Regions from separate parts of the Homo sapiens genome. Here region 1 is linked to region 2. The links come from fine-mapping of genetic effects on gene expression. Tissue or cell type: pancreas. Region 2 holds a variant in brackets; the other region holds the start of a gene. All regions are shown on one strand. Distances are between the middles of the regions.

Region 1 (2,762 bases), 46 kb before region 2:
AAGTAAAATAAAATTGCCACTATGGGAAAAAGAAACAAGAAAGACCTCACCTTAGAAAGTCTCTTCACATTCCAGCAATAGCCACATGGCTCGGGTTTCAAGAAAGGGGGTGTCCTGTTCTACAGAGTGTGTGTATAATCATAGCAACCAAAAGCTGTACCTTTCTTGGTGTCGCTTCAATTCTCTCCAGGGTAGGGGTCAGATCCTCCAAAAAGTGCAAGTCGTAAAGCCCAGTTGCTTGCACAGGCCCTCAGGAACACACACACACACACACACACACACACTTTTAAAAATATACATGTATTTTAAAGAACACAGCCAATTCCTTCACACCCCTCAAAGAGTCTTAAAATACTCTGGTCCTTGTTAATGCAGTAAGAAGAGCCCCATAGGAGCCTCCTTTCTCTTCAAATACACCAGATAAACCAAAAAGAGGATTTTAAACCTTCCCCTTGGGTTATCTTCCTGTCCTCGCGCTCCACCAGTAGGGCTATCAGCCTGGGACTGGTCCCGGCGAGGGGAGAGCAGTCGGCTCCCGGGAGGCGGGCGGGGAACTCAGCGGGGCCAGCCAGGCGGGCCCCAAGTGCGCCCTGGGCGCAAAGCCCGCGCTCCTCCAGCGTGCGCCTCGCCTCCTGTCCTGGCTCCCGGGGGAGCTCCGAGCCGGGGCGAGATTTCTCTCCCTGCCCTCACCCGCCCTCAGAGGCTCCGCGTCCTTCCGTAGGGACCTAACCTAGGGCGGATAGCGGGGACGCGGGGGAACCTCCCTGGCCCTGGCGTGGCTCCGCTTGTCGCCTCCCTAGCCCCGGGCTCGGCCAGCCGCCGCACGCGCGGGCTCTCAGCCCACCTGAGGCTCCACATGTAGCTGTGCTTGTAGGGGAAGTAGCTGCCCGGCTCGCTGCAGCAGTACTTGAGGTCGGCGAAGCCGCAGCAATACTGGAGCGCTGCCCCCTCGCCGCGCCGGGGGCACTGGAAGGGCTCCACGAAGCTCTGGTTGAGGCTGTAGTAGCCGGAGCACAGTCGGCTGGCCTCGCTCATCGCGGGCAGGGGCCGGGAGAGGCTCGCGAGGGCCCCGGTCTGCTCTCGGATCGCACCCGTCCAGCACCTCCAGAGCCCGCGGACCCCTCTGCCCGGACTCGGCTCTTCCGATCTGGGCTCTGGCTGCCTGGGCGCTCAGCCTTCGCGCGCCACCTCTGATTTCTCTCCTCCCCTTGTCCACATGGTGTCTGGGCGCCTTACTCTCGCCTCTCCCTCTCGCTGCTGAGCGGTCGCTCCTTTTATCCGCCCATCTCGGCGCCGACTCTCCTCCACTTTCCCTCACTTCATCAGCAGCCTGGAGACCTTAGCTGTCCCCACTCGATGCCAGAAAGAGCTTTCTCCAGAGGGAAAAAAGAAGAGGTGGGACATGTTTTCAGTGCAGGCAGATGCTGCCTAAGTTGCAGTTTTCCTGTCTAGGGACAGGGCAGGTGGATTCTGGGCAAACAGACTGGGTCTGGTGGAGACTTAACTGCCCGGCCATTGACTCAAGGAGTGGAGGAGAGGACCAGATAAAAGGCAGCTGAACACCAGAGAGGCGGAGTTGGTGTTCTCTTTCTTTGAGAAGTAAATGTGAAACATTAAGATCTGCCCATTTAAAAATAAAAAACAAGAAACAAAGTCTCCTGTAACAACTGGCCATGGTGCAGTTGCATTCGGTGTTCAGCTGAAAAATCCAGAAAGTTTAAGAAACGCAAGACATGAAGGTAAAGAAAGTGAGAACTTTCTAGAGAGGGAGGCAGCCAGAGGAAAAAAAAAAGGCAAAGGAAATAGGGAGAAAGAGACCTTCAGTCAGTTTTGATGTGCTGTAGGAACTTCTTTTGTCTCCTTTTTGTTTGATATTCCCATTTTCTTGATTGGTTTGTTCACAAAGCCTTTTTAAAATAACGATGATAATGCATGCTTATTGTGATAAGCCAAACAATGCTTGGGTGTATAAACAAAAAGGTAATAATAGTCTTACGATGGGAGAGGAGGCGATTATAACATTCATAAAATGTACAAGATAGAGCATTGTTTCTCCCTCTTCATTTCTGCTTCCTTCCCTTGGCCAGGGGCTTGATTGGATCCCAGACGTCGAATTTTACCTTGTTGGGTACTGGATGTTTTTGCATTCCTATAAATACTCTTGAGCTTTGTACTGGGATGCAGGAAACAGTTTGAGTCTTTCGGGTTTGTTTTTAATATTTGTTAGGCTGGACTAGATTAGCCTTTAGGACTGAATTTTTCCCCACTACTGAGGCAATACCCTTCGAATTATTCTACCCAAAACTTGTGAATTATAGGGCTTACCATTGTGACTGGTGGGAACACATAAAACACAGAAAAATCCAGAGACAGGCATGACCACAGAGGCCAAATTTCACCAAGCTTGGAGTATCTTGAGGCCTCTGAAGTTCAAACCAACAAAGGAGCCTTTTACCATATGAAGCTTAAGGGCAGTGTTAAGACTGCGGCTTTAACCAGTTAGGAAATTGCTTGACCTTGCCTGCTGTGTAGTCCCCTGTGACTTAGTCCCCAGTTATCTTCCTCCAGGCAGGAGGAGTTCTGATAGGGAGTAGGGTGGGGCTGATCCCGCACCAAAAGATAGCCATCGATTACATCTTTTATTTTCTCTTCTTCTTGTGTCACAAAGGTGATACTCCCCTTTAGAGAATATTCTGGAAATAAGGAGACATTTTTGGTTGTCATGATGACACTGTCCTGGCATTGAGGGATGTGGGTCAGGG
Region 2 (2,762 bases):
GGAGGAAAATGTTTTTGTTTAGGGAAATACCTTGCTGAGTTGCTTGAGAGTTGAAAGAGAGACCCTAAGGCCATGTGCTTAAAGAGGATGATGAAACAAAAGATGGATATACTGATCTGCATAATAATAAACAAAGATTTTATACTGGGGTTAATCAGGAAGATTAGAGGGTTTGGGGAGGAGAAGGAGAGGGAAGTCTGGCAATAAGATAGAGGGACAAGAATTTCCAGTGGTGTGATGTCCAGAAGACACTTAAGACCAAAGACATCTAATACTCATTTTGAGTTGTGTTGTTACGAAGAAAACTCCCTCTGACTCTAGATGGTTCAGTATAAACTTAATTTGGCAGAACATCCTAGTGGGGTGGGAATGGGGGAAATTAAGAGTCAGGGTAGTAAAAACACCAGTCCCATACTCACTCCTTTGCTGACACCCACAGGGGTTAGCAACATCCCTTCAAGGGAGCAGCAGGCCTTGTGTCCTGGTAGCAGCTAGCAGTAAAGTGAATGATGGCCCACGGGGTTGCTAACAGAGGCAGAGAGAAGCAGCTGTGGTGTGAAACTAACTCAGGACAGGCAAGAGCCAAACCCTCCTTTCCCCCAAATAAACTAGAAGAATACCACTTAGAAGCAGGGAGAGAAGGGCTGACATGTGTATTCCACAAACACACACACACACACACACACACTCAAGTTGGTACTAACTATTGTGACCTTACAGTCTTTAATAAAATTCTGGCAAAATGGCACACAAAGCATTAAAATTTGTAACATGGTTATATAACCTTTATTTGGCTTTCTTTCTTTCTTTTTTTTTTTTTTTTTTTCCAGAATAGACAACATTAGAGCCTATTAGTGTTGGCCTTGGGAAGATTAAGTGCTTTTGGAAAGTGTACCCTGTTATAAACAAAAGACAAGCACAATCTGGTAACTAAAAATGTTTTCCTAAGAGGACAGAGATGTACTTTTTCTTCCTCCCTCAGTCCTATTGATTTTTAAATGTCTGATCTCAAATATTCACCTTCATGAAGCATCTACTAACCTTTTCCAAATCAGCACAATCTCTTCCTTCTTTGAGCTCTGTATAAGTTATTATTTAAAGAGCTTATAAGTTAATATTAAATTTTGCTATGTTTCATAGTGTTATATCCAATCAGGACTCATCTCGGGAAATATAAATTAAGACAGAGACATTTGGCAGAATTTCAAGAGACTGGCCACATGGAATTCTTTTTGTTTTTTTGAGACGGAGTCTCGCTCTGTCACCCAGGCTGGAGTGCAGTGGCGCGATCTCGGCTCACAGCAAGCTCCGCCTCCTGGGTTCACACCATTCTCCTGCCTCAGCCTCACGAGTAGCTGGGACTACAGGCGCCCGCCACTACGCCTGGCTAATTTTTTGTATTTTTAGTAGAGACGAGGTTTCACCATGTTAGCCAGGATGGTCTCGATTTCCTGACTTCGCGATCCGCCCGCCTCGGCCT[C/T]CCAAAGTGCTGAGATTACAGGTGTGAGCCACTGCGCCCGGCCGGAATTCTTTATCCTAAGGAAGTCAACCCACATGCCAGGCCAAATGTAATTCAGAGAAAGGTTTTCATAATGATTTTATAAGTGCCAAAAATACAATAGCTAATACTAAAATAGCATGTACTATATGCAAGTTCTCTGTTCACCTTAATTCATCTAATTTTCTTTGTGATCCTATGAAATAAGGACTGCTATTATCCTCATTGTACAGATGGCATAGCTGAGGCAGAGAGATGCTAAACAGCTTGCTTAAAGAAGTAGCAGAGTCAAGATTTGAACCCAAGCAGTTGGCCTGGCTCCAAAATCCATGCTCTTAACTGGTAAGTCTTCACTGCCTACCATATAATTTTAAAAAATCTTGGTTTACAAATTCCACTCTTCTCCTGCCAAAATACCATAACCTCTCACATGACAAAGCTAACGAGGGTAGACAAAAAAAGAATAGAGTCAGGAAAGTTTTTTCCTTTCCCTCTATCCTGGGATGTCTCTAAGTCTGTAAATTCTTGAATGTCTGGTATTTCCTGCTTTTTAAGATAACATTTAGGCATTCATTAATACTAAAGGATCTAGGACTCTGCTATACATCTTATTGGCACATATCAACTATCAAACATCTTGAAATACATATATTTCAAGATATAGCTGTGGAATGAGTCCCAGGTCCAGAACTATGTTTATTAAGGTAATTATTCTAACCCAATTATGACAGAGGGTAAGGCAGATATATTCTCATTCACTTTCCTTTGAAAACTTCCTTTAGTAAAAAAATGGGGAAAAAAGCTAATTTAAAGACTGTCTGCCCTTCGTGAGTTTACCAGTCATCCTATTTTAATATTTTTCATTTCTCTTTGATGAGTATAAGTATGATGAATATATAATTATTTGTATTTCTTCCCGTTTTCCTTACTGGACTGAACAACTAAAGGGCAAGAGTGTATCATATCATAATTCCACATTACTTTGCACAATGCCGTGTCCCTTAAAGATGTATTGAATTTGGTTGATTAAAGACATTAGGTAGATGTTGCATCTGTCAAGGTTTGAGCAGAAAGTAGAACAAAAATTAATAATAAGAATCAAAAGGAAATAGAAAAAATGTAAAGAAAGGACTGTGTACAGAGATGTGGGTTTAGGTAGGATGATGAAACATACACAGATGTTATGGGCTGAATGTTTGTGTCACTCTAAATTTCCTGTTGAAATCCTAACTCCCAATATGATGATATTAGGAGATGAGGCCTT

Which allele goes with the higher level. Positions count from the first base shown, and alleles are read on the strand shown. Sizes are in standard deviations (SD) of each study's normalised expression.
For the expression in pancreas of the gene that starts at base 1,156 in region 1, C is the low allele of the variant in region 2 and T is the other (small effect, 0.36 SD a copy in GTEx).

What was found. PIP is the estimated chance that this variant, and not a neighbour inherited with it, causes the effect.
Region 1: it holds the start of SHISAL2B, and the variant in region 2 is fine-mapped to the expression of SHISAL2B in pancreas (GTEx, PIP 0.95).

The regions. Positions count from the first base shown.
Region 1 is chr5:64,688,897-64,691,658 of GRCh38, reverse strand. SHISAL2B (shisa like 2B) reads right to left here and starts at 1,156. Exons shown (of 3, transcript NM_001164442.2): 1 at 845-1,156. The coding sequence starts at 1,035. RefSeq lists enhancers at 685-1,185, 2,443-2,737, 2,244-2,745 and a silencer at 2,443-2,737.
Region 2 is chr5:64,643,154-64,645,915 of GRCh38, reverse strand. No RefSeq gene overlaps it. Among named protein-coding and RNA genes, the nearest start is that of SHISAL2B, 46 kb to the left of the region's middle. The variant C/T (reference allele first, on the strand shown) is at 1,481.